Regions from separate parts of the Homo sapiens genome. Here region 2 is linked to region 1. Evidence: fine-mapped QTL for protein levels in blood plasma. A gene starts in region 1. The other region holds a variant in brackets. All regions are shown on one strand. Distances are between the middles of the regions.

Region 1 (8,342 bases):
TAAAAGATAATCTAGGACAGGTATTATACTTATTGGTGGCTCAATTACTTATATATCAAATAAAGGTAAAACTAGCTCTCTTATTTTAGTAAGGATGAATGAATATTTATCTAGATACTACTGTGTTTAAAAATTGTTCAAATAAGGGTAGTGTAGTTCAAGACGACTAACTAGAAGCATTTCATGCCTGCCTCCTCCACTTAGAAGAACCAGAGTAATGTATAGACAGTCACAGTCGAATTACATTATCCAAGGGAAAATCCTGGAATCCACCAGAGAAGTGGCAGAGGACATCAAAAACAGGGAAGGAGAAGGAAAAGAGGCAGCCTCCCTGGCTGGGATTGGCTGGGAGCTGGGAGTGACTTCCCATGCACAAAGGACTGAGTTAGGGATTTCCAGTCATCCACATCTCCATGGCGGAATTCAGCAATCCTGGCCAAGGGAGAAGCACTCAACCCTATGAAACTAACATAGAGAGTCAGGACACCATTGGACAGAACTACTCCGGGAAGGGAACTCCTGCTGGGTTCCACACCTTTCTGACACTTAAGCATTTTCAAGCTTGTCCTCTGGAAATTGTATGCTGTTCAAGGACCCAGAGACACTGAAACTGGGGCATTACAGAAACTCAAGCTATTGCTGCTGGGACAGGAGATCGAACCAGGAGTGCTCCTGCAGGTGGGGCTAGAAAGTGAGCAAGGTTTGGTCAGCTGTGGCTGTGAAGCAAGCACTGCCAGGATCTGAGACAAGGATGCAAGAGGGGCACAAATTGCCATTGGAACTTGTTTGCAAGCCAGATGGGAGCTCCAGCAACCAGGGTGAGGGGGGGTGTCGAGCCCCTCCAGGACTGGAGTGTGAAAGGGACATATGTTCTTCCGCCACCTTCAACTGACCCAGGCTATGACCACTCAAGATGGCCCTACCCTCTTCAGTAATCCTCTGCCTGGGACCCGACGATTGCTCTGACCCTGCCCACAATGACGAGTGCCTGCTGTCAACATTGAGGACCTGAGCACAAACCCATCTAGCTCAGCTTCACCTCACCTCTCCCGCTCTGAGACAGAGCACATAGCCCAGGGTCCTGCGGATTGCTCGACCCAATTCACTACCTTGGGCACCTGAGCACTTCTTCTGGGGGCTTGAGGTTGGATCTAAACTTCTGGCTGCTACTACCTTGCCTGGCGCCTACCTGCAAGTGCCAACTGTGGGTCCAAAGGCTGTCTTGTCCAGCCCATTGCAGCCAGCACCAACATTAATGCACATCACTTGGGACTCATAGAATCATCTTGCCCATGCTATTGCTATTGTCAATGCCATGCTGGCTGCCCAGGGGCCTGAAAACCCACACAATTGCTTGATCCATTGGTGCTACTATGAGCATCCAAATGAGCAACCTGAAAGCCCAAGAATCAACCCACTGGTAACTGCCAACAGAGAAGCCAGCATATACCACCCTGGGGCAAAAAGATAGATGCTCAGCCCACTGATGCCAAAGCTGGGGACCTGAAGACTCTCCCGCTCAGCATCCCTGTCCCTAGCACAACTTTACCATATTCTCCACTAATAACCATGCTCCAACTAGCCAAAGAAATCACACATATCACTAATGCTGTTTACAGTCAAAGAAATATACAGAAAGTACACTACTGCACATACACAGAATCAAAGCCAAAGCACCCCACCAAACAAGCAACGTAGATACATTTTCAAGAAATGTCTTCTATTCGGGACTGGCTCATATCTTTTTATCTAACTAGATGTCAGATCTTGAAATCCGTATTCTCAAAGCAATTCTGCCACTTGATCGTATTCTCAAGGGCCCTGATAGGCTCCTTTATAAGGACCAATTCTGTTCCTAGAGCTTAACTAGAATTAATTGTTCACTGAAAAAAAAAGTTAATTAAGAAAGCATTTCTTTCCTAATCTCACTCAAATCTGCAGAATTATTTGTAATTAATAATACAAAGGCTGGCCAAAAGGAGACTTGTAAATAGCGTAAAGTGGTGTCTTATACTAAACGGTGGAATGTTTAGGCAGAGAAGCTCTTTGAAATTGTCAGATGGGCTGGGCTCACAAGCCTGATTCAAACAGGCTGTCAGTCTCCTCTCTCCCCTTAACACTGTGCAGCCCAAACCCCTGGGACCCTTGAACATCTGAGCAGTTTTGTGCTTTGAGCCACTTTTTGATAAAAAAAAAGGCTCCATTTTTCCACATTGTGATTTTCTTAAAGTAGTTCAATGTTTTATAGTCTCATAGTAGTAGTGTTGCTTTCTAAGCTATAACAGTTGATTTTATTCTTCTACTCTGAAAAATCTTGACTTGTTTGAGTGTATATTATATATAAAGGGAGCCTTAATGGATTGGTTTTCATAATTTAATATTTTTTGTATTTGCCGTTGTATAATTGTTTTTAACAGAAAGCATTAAAGAATTGAGAGTGGAATTCTTAGAACCAAAGTTATTCTTAATAAAAATCACCACATGCTTGGACCATGAAAAAAAAAAGAAATGTCCTCTATGAAAGTAAATTAAAAAATAGGAAGAAGCTACTGTTATACTAGATGCACAGATTTTAACATAAGGACACAGGAAACATGAAACAGCAAGGAAAGGAACACAAGAATTCTGCAGAAATAGATCTTAATCACAAAGAAATTTTTGAAATTCCAGACAAAGAATTCAAAATATTGATGTTAAAGAAGCTCAGTGAGATACAACAGAATTCTGAAAATCAATACTATGGAAACCAGAAAAACAATTCAGGGTATAAATGAGAAAATGATCAAAGAGATATATATTTTTTAAAATAACCAAATATAAATTCTGGAACTGAATAGTTAATTGAAGGAAATGCAAAACACATTTGAAAAGTTCAATAATAGACTAAATCTGGCAGAAGAATCTTGGAACTTGAAGACAGGTTTTTTGAAATAATCTAGTCAGACAAAAATAAAGGGAAAAGTACAAAAAATAATGAGCATAGCCTTAATAACATTTAGGACAACAAAAAGCAATGGAATTTATAAATTACTGGTATCTCTAAGGGTGAAAAAACAAAGAAATATTGGAAAACCTACTCAGCAAAATAATACATGAAAACATCCCAAGTCTAACAAAAGATTTAGGTATAGAGATACAGAAGGCCCAATGATCCCCGGGCAGATCCCCAATGCAAAAGGTCTTCTCCTTGGCACATTATAGTCAGACTGTGTGAAGTCAAAGTTAAAGAGCAAATTCTACAAATAGCAAGAGAAAAGCATCTAGCTACCTCTAAAGGAAATTCCATTTGACTAAGAGCAGATTTCTCAGTAGAAACCTTACACACCAGAAAAGAAGGAACTGATATATTCTAAGTGCTAAAAGAAAAAATAACTGCCACCACAGAACATGCAAAGAAACTATTCTTCATAAATAAAAGAGAAATAGATTCATCCCAAGACAAACAAATGCTGATGAAATTTATTACCACTAGACCAGCCTTGGAAAAAATACTCAAAGGAGTCCTAAACCTGGAAGCAAAAGGATGATTTTATCATCACGAAAACATATGAAAGTAAAAAATTCACTGGTAAAGCAATCATGCAAATGAGAACTAGAAAGGACTCAAATGGTACCACTACAGAAATCCACCAAATCACAAGGACAAACAATAAGATAAAAGGAAAGAAACAACGAATGTTTAAAACAAGAAAATGTTTAATAACCTGACAGAAAGAAAGCCTCACAAATCAATAATAACCATGTATGTAAATGGATTAAAGTATCCTCTTAAAAGATATAGAATGGCTGAATGGATTTTAAAAATGACTCAACAGTGTGCAGCTTAAAGAAACACACCTTAAGAAAAGACACATATAGACCAAAAGTAAAAGGATGGAGAAAGATATTCCACACAAATGGAAACCAATAGTAAGCAGCAGTAACTATACTTAGATAAAACAGACCTTAGGTCAAGAGCAGTAGAAAAAGACAAAGAAGGTCATTATATAATGATGAAGGGATCAACCCAGCAAGAGGATATAACAATTCTAAATATATATGCACCCAGCAATGGAGCAGCCATATCTATAAAGCAAATATTACTAGATCTAAAGAGAGAGATAGAATGCAATACAATAATGGTGGGAAGCTTCACCACCCTATTCTCAGTAAGACAGATCACTTAGACAGAAAATCAACAAACAAACATCACATTTAAACTACACTATAGACCAAATGGAACTAACAGACTTTTACAGAACTTCTACCCAACAACTGCAGAATACATATTCTTTTCATCAGTACATGAAACATTCTCCAGGATACACCATATATTCGGCTACGAAATAAGTCTCTATAAATTAAAAAAAAAATCAATATTTACTCAATGTATACTCAGACCACAATGGAACAAAACAACAAGTCAGCACCAAGAGGAACTCTGGAAACAAGACAAATGTATGGAAATTAAACAATATGCTCTTAATGACCTACCAGGTGAAAATCTATACAGGAAAAACTAAAAAACACTGATGAAAGAAATTGAAGATGACACAAACAAATGGAAAAACATCCCATACTCATGACTGGAAGAATTAAGATAGTTAAGAAGCCCACACTGGTCTATAGCAATCTAAAGATTTAATGTAATCCATATGAAAATACCAATGTCAGTCTTCACAGAATTGTAAAAAACAATTATAAAATTCATATGGATCCAAAAAGAACCTGAATAGCCAAAGCTATCCGGAGAAAAAAGAACAAAGCTGGTGGTATCACTTTACCTGACTTCAAAGTATATTACAAGGCTATAATAACCAAAACAGCATGATATTGGTATAGAAATAGATACATAGACCAATGGAATATAACCCAGAAATAAGGCCACATGTATACAGCCAATTGATTGTCAACAAAACTGACAAGAACTTATATTGAGGAAAGGACACCTTCTTCAATAAATGGTGCTGGGAAAATTGTATACCCACACACAAAAGAATGAAACTGGATTCTTCTCTCTCACCATATTAAAAAAAAACTCAAAATGAATCATACACTTAAATGTAAGACCCAAAACTATAAAAAAAAAAAACAGCTACAAGAAAACCTAGGGAAAACTCTTTTGAACATTGGTCAGAAGAGTCAGAAATTATGACTAAGTTCTGAAAAGCACAGGCAACAAAAACAAAAATAAACAAATGGGACTTAATAAACAAAAAGCTTCTGCCAGGAAAAGAAATAATTAGAGTGAAGAAACAACCTGTTGAATTGGAGAAAATATTCGCAAACTATTCTTCTGACAGGAGACTAATATCCAGACTATACAAGGAACTCAAACAACTCAACAGGAAAAAGCAAATAATCCAAGTAAAAAGTGGGCAAAGGACAGGAATAGACAGTTCTCAAAGAATACATAAGAACAGCCAATACGACAAAATGGTCAGCGTCACTAATCATCAGAGAAGTGCACATCTAAACCAAAATGAGATACCGTCTTACCCAGTCAGAATGACTATTACTAAAAAAACAAAAAATAACAGATTTTGGCAAGGATGAGGAGAAAGATAACTCTTCTGTACTGTTGGTGGGAATTTAAACTAGTACAGCCACTTTTGAAAACACTATGGACATTTCTCAGGAACTAAAAATAGAATTACTATTCGATCACTCAAGCAATCCCACTACTGGGTATCTACCCGAAGGGAAAGAAAGAAATACATCAAAGAGATACCTGCATTCACATGATTTTTGCTGCACTATTCACAATATCAGAGATATGGAACCAACCTAAGTGTCAATTAACAGATGAATGGATAAAGAAAATATAGTATACATGCTATTTGGCCATAAAAAAGAATGAAATCGTGTCATTTGCAGCAACATGGATGGGACTAGAATTCATTATCTAAATTGAAATAAGTCAGACACAAAAAGACAAATGTTGCATGTTCTCACTTACATGTGGGAGCTAAAAAAATATTATCACATGGAGGTGGACAGTAGAAAGATAGACAACAGAGACTGGAAAGGGTCAGATGGGGGAGGACAGAAGATGAAGAGAAGTGAGTGAAGTGCTACAAACATACAGTTAAAAGGAATAAATTCAGCGTTAGAGAGCAGAATAGTGTGATTTTAGTTAACAAGAATGTATTGCACTCACGTGACGGACACTCTAAATATCCTGACATAATCATTACGCATTATATACATGCAAAAAAATTTTACATCTACTCCTTAAGTTTGTAGAAATAAAAAAATTTACAAATATATGGTGGCAAATTCTAATACCTCATAGGTATTAGAGATTTGCCAGATGCATACTGCACAGAGGAAAATAGAAAACCATGTGAGCTAGACCTAAAAATTTTAATTTTGTCAGGATATTCTGCTCACGTTGTCCAGAAATATGTCTTTTGTGCCACATTTAACTGTGAGAAGCAGATTTTTCACAGGAAAGAAATTGCTAATCTCTATGATGAGGACCTAAAAAAAAATCTCTCCAGTCCACACTGCACTGAGTGGCAACATTAATTCAAAAGAAGTTTCTTCTGCACTGCAGTTCATAAAATATGTGTCCTTTTTGATTTACATGAAGATGTTGCATGGTTCTTATTTTGGAGATGTCATTGAAATTTTGTAAATCAGCGTACTAGCTGTCAAGGAAAAACCTCCATACTCATGTTTTAAAAAATATCTGGCATTCTACTGTGTCACTTGGCAAACTCACCAGTGTCCACAGCTCTAAAGCTAGATAGTGAGGGTGTGTGCTGAGGATGGGAAGCTATGGATGGGGATCATCTCAAGGGTAGGGACCAGGTCCCTGGCATCTCTTCTCCAGCCCGACCTACATACAGATGCTCACTATGTCTTTGGTGAATGAATGAATGAATGAATGAATGAGTGAATGAATGAGTGGCTATCACCCACACTGCACCTGGGACCCTTCTTCCTTTCACTGTCCCAGACACTCCCACAGACCCTACAGAATCCTATATCCTGCAGGACTGACTTTCTCATGGCGTGGGATGAGGCTGTGACTCTCTGGGGCCAGGAGTGACCAGCTCCCAGGTGTAAACAGTGGTGCACAGAAAAGCACCTCAGGTGGGCAGGGCCTTGGACACAGGTTTCGCATTCCTCAGATGCCCCGGGAGGCCCTGGTCCGGGCTCTGTTGCTCACAGGAAGCCCCGAGGTGGGAGGCGGGACACAGTCTCTTCTCCTCTGCTCTTCTTTGGGCAGGTCTCTGGGTCTCAAAGTTTCCGTCTGCTCTGTGCAGAGGGAGTGGAGCTCCGAGGGCTTGTGGCTTCGCAGTTCCTCTTCTGTGAACAGCCGAGATCACGCGCTCCTCCCCAGCCACCCGTTCCTCCCCGCAGTCCTTCCCCTCCACTCCCTTCCCCTTCTCTGCTCATGCAGGGAGCCCAGGAAGCCTCCGCCTCAGAGATGCTACCGCTGCTGCTGCCCCTGCTGTGGGCAGGTGAGTGGGCCAGGGGAGAGGTGCCGTGGGGCTGGGCCGAGCTGACCCTCATGTCTCCATAGGGGCCCTGGCTCAGGAGCGGAGATTCCAGCTGGAGGGGCCAGAGTCACTGACGGTGCAGGAGGGTCTGTGCGTCCTCGTACCCTGCAGATTGCCCACTACCCTTCCAGCCTCGTACTATGGTTATGGCTACTGGTTCCTGGAAGGGGCTGATGTTCCAGTGGCCACAAACGACCCAGACGAAGAAGTGCAGGAGGAGACCCGGGGCCGATTCCACCTCCTCTGGGATCCCAGAAGGAAGAACTGCTCCCTGAGCATCAGAGATGCCCGGAGGAGGGACAATGCTGCATACTTCTTTCGGTTGAAGTCCAAATGGATGAAATACGGTTATACATCTTCCAAGCTCTCTGTGCGTGTGATGGGTAAGGAACCAGCTCCAGGACTAGCCACAGGGGAAGGTCATGGGGGCCGTAGGGCAGGGCTGGGACGGGAGCCCCGTCTTGGGAGGCGGGTACAATTAAGCATGTTGGGCTCAGAGAAGGAGCTGGACCAGAGACTGGGCTTCCCCCTGGGTGAAACCTCAGACCTCCATCCTGATCCTGCGTCCCCATCTCCTCACCAGCCCTGACCCACAGGCCCAACATCTCCATCCCAGGGACCCTGGAGTCTGGCCATCCCAGCAATCTGACCTGCTCTGTGCCCTGGGTCTGTGAGCAGGGGACGCCCCCCATCTTCTCCTGGATGTCAGCTGCCCCCACCTCCCTGGGCCCCAGGACCACCCAGTCCTCGGTGCTCACAATCACCCCACGGCCCCAGGACCACAGCACCAACCTCACCTGTCAGGTGACGTTCCCTGGAGCCGGTGTGACCATGGAGAGAACCATCCAGCTC
Region 2 (8,342 bases), 48 kb after region 1:
CGTGCCTGATGACCAAACTCTCCCTTTCTCCATCCAATCGGTCCACACTCCCCGCCCCCGGCCTCTGGTACCCACCATTCTCTTCTCTACTTCTCTGAGGTCGACTATTTTAGGTTCCAAATATAGTGAGATCGTAGAGTGTTTGTCTCTCTGTACCTGGCTTATTTCACTCAACATAATGTTCTCTAGGTTCATCCGTGTTGTTCCAAATAACAGAATAATGTATTGAATATTTCAAAATGGCTAAAAGAGAGGAGTTTAAATGTTGTCACCAAAAAAAAAAAAAAATTAAATATTTGAGCTGACGGATGTGCTAATCATGCTGACGATGGTTCCACGGTGCATCCAGGTGAGGGAGCCTCACTGGGGCTGCGTTCAGGTCGCTCCGGTACTCAGGGCAGGACTGAAATTTAATCCCTGCCTGATTCTAAGGTCTCTTCTCTCATTCGGCACTGAGTGGAACAACCACTGATTGGCACCCCTTGGCCATAAGTTTACAGCATCGCTGTTGATTCCATGGGTGAAGAAATCTGAGAAGCTGGAAGCGCCGGAGCTGAGGGAGGAGGCGCTTGGAATTAGAGCCCAGCTTTGCGCATGGCCCGCCCCGACCTGCAACCCATTGACCAGCTCTGATTGGCAGATGAAGCGCCCAATGGCCACGCTACCCACGACATCATCTTCAGGTCCCGGGTGGGGTCTGCAGACCTCCTACTGGAGCCTCCATCTCCAGGCTTCCGTGTGACTGGGCTGGGTCCCTCTCTTGCCAGTACCCTCCAAAGAGACCCTGGACCCTTTTCAGCCTCGCTGGCCCTATGGGGACCCCCAGCCCTTCTCCATCACCCTCTCCTCACCTGCTTGCCCTTCTGGTCTTGTCCTCAGGTCTGGGGTGGACACTCATGGAGCCCGATTTGTCCTATGGGGAGAAATCAGGGAAGAAGCCACATCTCAGGTCCCTAAGAAACATGGGAGAGTCCTGGATAGAGAGAGGTGAAGGGGCCCGACTTCCCACCAAGTCCAAGCCTAAGTCTTCCTCACATGGGACCCAATGGAGGAGATGGTCTGAGGGCTGCACCTCTGCACCGAGAGTCCTCAACATCTCCATACTTTTAAAGATTTCCGAGGGCACTGGAGGAAGATGCCACTGTGTGGGGAGAAAGAGGCCGGGTGAAGCTGAGGAAGGAGTGGGCACTGTTGGCCTAATTATGAGGGATCACAACAATGATGGAGGTAATAACAGTAATTTACTTCATACCAATTATATGCCAGGCACTATAACTTATGACAGGGTTATCTTTAACCCTCCCAACAGCCAAGCAAGACAGATACTTTAACCCATTTGCAGATGAAGAAATGAGGGTCCAGAGAGGTGATGTTACTTGCCCCAGGTCACACAGCCAGAACATAACAGAGGCCAATATTCCCAAACTGGCTTCTCTGATTCCAGATCCCTGCTCTCATATCGGAGGGGAGGCCCCAGACCATAGAGAACATGGCGCCTTTGAAAGGAATGGGACAGTGGCGTGGAGGTGGTTCTGCCAGGCCAGGGGGGTTCTTCCAGGTGGTGGAAGATGAGGTGATTCAGATACACTCTTTGAAATACCCTTGAACTTTCTTGAGTTTATCACAATCAGTTTAGAATTGCACATTGAATAATATGATGGCATTAATAATAATATCTGAGATTTTATGAAGTGCTTACTGTGTACCAACCCTTCTTCCAAGGTAATTACTACTAAGAGCTTACTTTATCCCCATAGGAGATATCCCTGTGAGGTTTGGACCAGTGTTAGTTCCATTTTACACATGGCAAGTAAAGCACAGTCAGGCCGATTGCCTGCTATCTCACTGTATGGTCGACATTGTAGGCTCCTTGGTGAAGGGACCATATAATAATCATAAATAGGCTCAATATCTAAATATTAAGATAATTGAAGATGTATCTTCTAAAATCTTTAGATAACATAGTGAAAACGCATACACGTATGCTGTGTGTCTCCTCAGCTCCCTCTTGCCCCACCATTTATTCTAGGAAATGCCACTCCTGTGCCTTTTGGGTGGTATCCAGATCCAATCATGATTAAAATATGAGTAACTCCAGGGTGATCTTTTGGGGAGGGAGAAGGGGAGCTGAAAGAGGGGGCTGGATCGTGGTAGCTGTGATATTACTGGGGGCAGGGAAAGCAGTTTGTTCATCTTTTGTTCATCAGAGGCCCAAGAATAAAGCCAGGAGCTTGGTGAAATGTGGGGGGACCGAGAAACTGAATGAGAGACAAATGAATGAGTCACTGAGGTTGACTTAATGTCAACCTAATCATCCAAAATTTCACTTTGGATGATGAGGTTGACATTAAGTCAACCTCAGTGACTCATTCATTTGTCCCTCATTCAGTCTCCATCAATGACTTTGAACACAAGGATAGAAACCCCTGGAAACTTTTCGTCTGAAGAAATTCGAGTGGAAGCAGGATCATTATGGACAGAAGCACTAAGGCCCATTATACTTTTAGGGATCACAAAAATGTTTCAATTTCTTCTAAAATCAGAAGGAAAAAAACTGAATACAACCCACCCTATATTTTATACATGTTTATATCAAGATAGTCGTAAAATATAATTTTTAATATTTTTCTAGAGGAGGGCCCACAAAAGCAAAAATGCACCCCTGGATGGAATCCATTCCGTAAAACAGAAATGGCCCTGCTCTTAGGGGAATGAGGAGGGATTCTGGAGCCCTGTCCACATGAGTTCCCTGCCCCACTCCAAACTCTGGCACCTTCTGCAGCCCTTGTGAAGAATGTGGTTCCAGGTCCAGGAGGGGCCTGCCCCCAGGGAGGAGCCCACCCTAAGGCAGGGGCCCACCCCTTCTCAGCTGAATTCTCTGAGACCTTTTGTCTTGAGACCTCTCTTGAAGACTAGCCAACAACCCTGCATTTCCAAGACCTCGCTGACCTCCCAGGCGAGGTCTTGTATTTAGATATTGAACCTATTTATGATTATTACATGGTCCCTTAGCAAAGGAGCCTACAACATTGACCATACAGTGAGATAGCAGGGAGTCAGCCTGTCTGTGCTTTACTTGCTATGTGTAAAATGGAACTAATACTGGTCCCAACCTCACAGGGATATCTCCTATGGGGATAAAGTAAGCTCTTACTAGTAAATACCTTGGAACAAGGGTTGGTACACAGTAAGCACATCATAAAATCTCAGAGATTGTTATTAATACCATCATATCATTCTGTTTCTGCCCTTGACCTGAGCCCCTCCCCACTATGTCATGGCCACTCTCTCCATCTGCTTTTGCAATCCCCTTTTCTCTGCTCTTCCCTGAATATGAGAATTCTGTTTCCACCTCGAGCTCTCTTCTCTTCCCATGCAGCATAGTTCCTGGGGTTGGGGTGAGGGACAGAGGAGGGACTAGTGGTTGTCTCTTTCTACTTTTTCTGGTTTTGTTTGGTTTTGTTTTTACTCTTTAAGAACATTCTACATAATTGGTTTACAGCAGTGCTGTCCGGTAGAACTTTTGGCAATGACGAAATGGTCTATATTGGCACCGTCCAATCTCATAGCCATGAGCTGGTGTGACTGAGGAGCTGGATTTTTTACTTATTTAATTTTAATTCATTTTAAACTTAGTCACGTATGACTAGTGGCTACCATATTGGTTAATTCATGTTACAGGCCTTTTCTTCACAGATTATTTACTTATTTATTTTTGAGATGGAGTCTCGCACTGTCGCCCAGGCTGGAGTGCCATGGTGTGATCTCGACTCACTGCAACCTGCACTTGAACTGCACTTGAATCTCCCAGGTTCAAGTGATTCTCCTGCCTCAGCCTCCCAAGTAACTGGGATTACAGGTGACTGCCATCACACTTGGCTAATTTTTTGTATTTTTA[G/A]TAGAGACGGGATTTCACTATGTTGGCCAGGCTGGTCTCGAACTCCCGACCTGATGATCCGCCCGCCTTGGCCTTCCAACATGCTGGGATTACAGGCTTCAGCCACTGTGCCTGGCCTATTTATTTATTTTTTATACAGGGTGTCTGTTGCCCAGGCTGGAGTGCAGTGGCACGATCTCGGCTCACTGAGCCTCTGCCTCTCGGGCTCAAGAGATCCTCCCACCTCAGCCTCCTGAGTAGCTGGAACTCCAGAAGCACTCCACCACTCCAGGCTAACTTTTGTATTTTTTGTAGAGATGAGGTTTCACCACGTTGCCCAGGCTGGTCTTGAACTCCTGGGCTCAAGTAATCTGCTTGCCTCAGCCTCCCAAAATGTTGGGATTACAGGCATGAGCTACCATGCCTGGCCATTTCTTCACAGTTTAAATTCAATTTAATATTAAATGAAACAGGTACTAAATCTTACTTAATGTTTAATCTTTCAATTAGATGAACTTTCAATATAATTTTGATCTCACAGTTTATATTTCAATTACATTTTCATTTAGTTTAAAATTTTAGATGAAAATTAGCTCAATAAGGCCAGGCGCGGTGGCTTATGCCTGTAACCCCAGCACTTTGGGATGCTGAGGCGGGCGGATCACGAGGTCAGGAGATCAAGACCATCCTGGCTAACACGGTGAAACCCCGTCTCTACTAAAAAAAAAAACAAAAAAATTAGCCAGGTGTGGTGGCGGGCGCCTGTAGTCCTGGCTACTTGGGAGGCTGAGGCAGGAGAATGGCATGAACCTGGGAGGCGGAGCTTGCAGTGAGCTGAGATCGCGCCACTGCACTCCAGCCTGGGCAACAGAGAGAGACTCCATATAAAAAAAAAAAAAGAAAGAAAAGAAAGAAAGAAAGAAAAAGAAAAAAGAAAATTAGCTCAATAAACAAAAGTTTTGTTCTGCAGGACACCTAGGCATATGTGAGAGTCCTTGAGGACTGAGCTGTCACTAGGCATGTTGATCTCAGGTGAAGGAGACTGGCCCCTAGAGATGAGGGCTCTCCTTCCTAGACCAGGGGGCTCAAGTAGTTCCATCGGCTGCTCCTACTACAGTCTTAGTAGGAAGGAGATGCGGTCCCTGACCTTGGAAAATCCCCTAAGAAACAGCTTCCTCCGGGCACAATGATGCAACCTGCTGACCCAGCTGCACCCTTGGTCTAGGATTGTTTTTAAGGCTCAGAGGCCTGCCTGTCACCCCAGAGCTCACAGAAAAATATAGGCATTGTGCTTCATCATAATCATCACCATCAGCACTGCATTTGCTACCGTCATCATTAGCACCACCATCACCAACATCATCACCATAATACTATTGTCACCATTATGGCCATCATCATCACCATTGTCATCATCACTACCAATGTCACCATCACTAGCAACACTACCATCATCTTTGTCATCATCATCATCACCACTATCACCACCACCACTATTACTATCATCACCATCATCACCATCACAATAATGCCATTTCCACTATTAATCTACATCATCATTGCCATTCCCACTATAATCACCACCATCACCATTGGTACCATTATCTCCATCATTAACGTCATCATCCTCCCAAGCATCACTGCACTTTCTAACATCTACTCCACTGACTCTCAACCAGGGCAAAGTTGCCTCCCATGTGATCTTCATAGTGTCTAGAGACATTTTTGGTTTTCTGAACTGGGGTGGTGGTGGTTGTTACCACTAGCATCTAATGGAAAAAGGCCAGTTATGCGGCTAAATGTCCCACAATGCACAGGACAGCCTTACTACCTCCTCTTCCCCATCAGAGAATTATGGTCCCAATGCTGATAGTGCTGAGGTTGAGAAACTCTGGTCTACTCTATGCTGAGAATGCTGCAAGTCCCCTTTTCCTCCAAGACGTGTCTCTAATCCCCACATCACCCTTCAGGCAGTTGTTGCTCCGTTCATTCTTCAGCTGGGCTGAGGATGAGCTATGAGGAGAAGTGACCTACCCAAGGTAACCTAGCCTACAGGTAGCAGAGCTGGGGTTTGAACCCAGACCTTAACCATCCCACTGCCCAATCTCTTCTCCCTGCATAGTTCACCGCTGATACCTGTTTCCCCAACTTCACTTGGTAGCAAAGGATGACTATGTACCAGGAATTGACATGCAGACCTCTCATTTTTTTACCTGTCCCTCTAGGTAAACCTTAATATCCCTTATAAACACAAAGAGAAGGGAAGTTGCTAGAAGAAACCCCACAGCTATTTAGAACCATGGCCGACTCTAAACCCTCTCTTGCTCCCATCAGCTTCAGGTCCTGGGGGCTGATCTGTCTGCCCCAGATGATCCCTGACAACCTAGTTCCTGGCTTATCCCTCCCCTTCTGGCTCTGCTTCCCCTCTGGAGGGAGGGCTGGCTCCTGAGTCCCAGCCCCCAGCCAACATCCCACCCTTGTCCCAGAGCAATGAGGGCACCTGATTGAGTAGTGGTTGATCAGAGCATGGATCAGGACTCCACAGATGTAAACGCCACCCAGCACTGTCAGCATGATGAGGAACATCACCATGGATCCTGAGATGGAGAAATCTCTGTGGACAACAGGTAAGATCCCTGAAGGAAGAGGACACCTGGGGGTCAGGACCACGATTGACCCATTCATGCATTCACTCATCTCTTCACCCACCCACATATCCATTCTTCAAAGATTTGTCAACATCTATTATCAGCAAAGCACTGTTCCAGGTACGAGGGATTCAGCAGCCAACAAAACAAACTCCCTGTACCCATGGGCCTGACATTCTAGCTGGGAAGTGGACAGTGGACAATTAAGCAAAGAGATGTCTCACACTGCAAGCAACCATAAGTGAATAGAGAAGAATAAACCCTCATAAGGGGAGAGACAGTGACTGGAAGGGGGGTGTGTGACACAGGGTCATTAACTCATTGCATAAATGTTCACTGAGCACCAACTATGTGCTACACACTGTGCCAAGCACTGAGGACAAATGGAAAACAGAAAGCTCGCCCAAGGTGGATCACCTGAGGTCAAGAGTTCAAGACCAGCCTGGGCAACATGGTGAAACCCCATCTCTACTCTATTTTGTAAAAATACAAAAATTAGCTGGGCACAGTGGCGTGTGCCTGTAATCCCAGCTACTCAAGAGGCTGAGGCAGGAGAATCACTTGAGTCCGGGAGGTGCAGGTTGCAGTGAGCAGAGATTGCACCACTGCATCCAGCCTGGGCAACAGAGCGAGACTCTGTTAAAAAAAAAAAAAAAGCTTCCCCAGCTTCTGCCCTCCTGAATCTTGTAGTCCAGGGGAAGAGAAAAATGTGAATCGATGACTTGGAGGGCTGCATGCACACATCGTGTCTGGTGCATAGTAGGTGCTTAGGAGGTAGTGTGGCTGAAGTAAAGTCTGGAGACCACATCCTGTAATGTCTTCTGTACTTTCTTGCACAGTTTCATTTTATTCTCACAGCACCCTTTCCCTGCAGGGATTCTTATCCTTTCATTACAGTTGAGGAAACTGAGTCTCGGAACGATGGAGCTGCTTGTCCCAGGTTCATGGAGATAGGCAGCAGCAGAATGGGGATTTGGACCAAGAACCTTGGGCTGTAGAGCCCCTGCATTTACCTGCTGCACTCCTCTGCAGTCTCCCTGAGCACATCAGTCTCTCTCCTTGATGCAGAAGATTGGACGCATGGTTGCTAAGAAGATGCTTTCCCCATTTACAAATTCACTCCCAAGCCAAGTTTCTGACGCCATGGCCATGCCAAATCTCTACTCCCCGTCCACCCATCCCGTCCCTGCGTCTTTCTAATTCCTCATCTTGAAGCAGCTGAAGGGAGCAGTTGAGGGTGTAGGCTATGCCTGCCTGGGCTTGAATGCCACCTCTTCCATGGGTTACAAAGCAATAGAGCCTTGAATAAGCACTCAAACTCCATGGGGCTCAGTTTCTCACCTGTCAAATGGAGGTGATGCCAATCGCATTCACTTACTCCAGAGAAATGGTGAGAGTCACACAGGTTAGAACAAAGGCGGGCACATAGTAAGTGCTCAGCCAATGTCTGCTACTCTTATCCCCCTGGGAGTCACCCTGACTCTGATCTGAGGACTCCAGAGGATTCACAGAGGAGGCAGCTTTGGACCCAGACCTCAGAGAACTGGGAGATTTCACCCAGAGGTTGAGAGCATGTCATGGCACAGTGGAGGTGGCACTCCTGAGGGTGGGCACTGCCTAGCAGGGCATGGAGGCAGGGAGATGTGCAAAGCATGAGCCTGGAGGGGAGCTGCTGCACTCATGGGGGGCCTGGATCCTGACGTCCATGTACATGATCAGCTGTGTCACGGGGTTCTCCACAGTGCATCGGTAACGGCCCATCTGCTCCCAGGCAAGACTCGAGAGGTTCATCTTTGCATCTGAGAAGTTCAGGAGGG

Alleles and levels. Alleles are on the strand shown, and positions count from the first base shown. The strength of an association depends on the size of the effect and on how common the allele is.
With allele G in place of A in region 2, the plasma level of the protein whose gene starts at base 7,363 in region 1 is higher (weak association).

Evidence for each region. PIP is the chance, under the fine-mapping model, that this variant and not a neighbour inherited with it causes the effect. The UK Biobank Pharma Proteomics Project read protein levels with antibody pairs (Olink). The fine-mapping took linkage between variants from a reference panel, not from the people measured, so its PIPs are less certain.
Region 2: its variant is fine-mapped to the plasma level of the SIGLEC6 protein (UK Biobank, PIP above 0.99).

What each region holds. Positions count from the first base shown.
Region 1 is chr19:51,530,691-51,539,032 of GRCh38, reverse strand. It overlaps SIGLEC6 (sialic acid binding Ig like lectin 6), which reads left to right and starts at 7,363. Exons shown (of 8, transcript NM_001245.7): 1 at 7,363-7,451; 2 at 7,514-7,873; 3 at 8,074-8,342. The coding sequence starts at 7,385.
Region 2 is chr19:51,483,158-51,491,499 of GRCh38, reverse strand. CEACAM18 (CEA cell adhesion molecule 18) reads right to left here. Exons shown (of 6, transcript NM_001405061.1): 4 at 8,204-8,342; 5 at 6,378-6,513; 6 at 199-913. The coding sequence ends at 848. It overlaps SIGLEC12 (sialic acid binding Ig like lectin 12), which reads left to right. Exons shown (of 8, transcript NM_053003.4): 8 at 1-273. Among named protein-coding and RNA genes, the nearest start is that of CEACAM18, 8.8 kb to the right of the region's middle. RefSeq lists silencers at 2,598-2,778, 4,022-4,181. The variant G/A (reference allele first, on the strand shown) is at 3,899.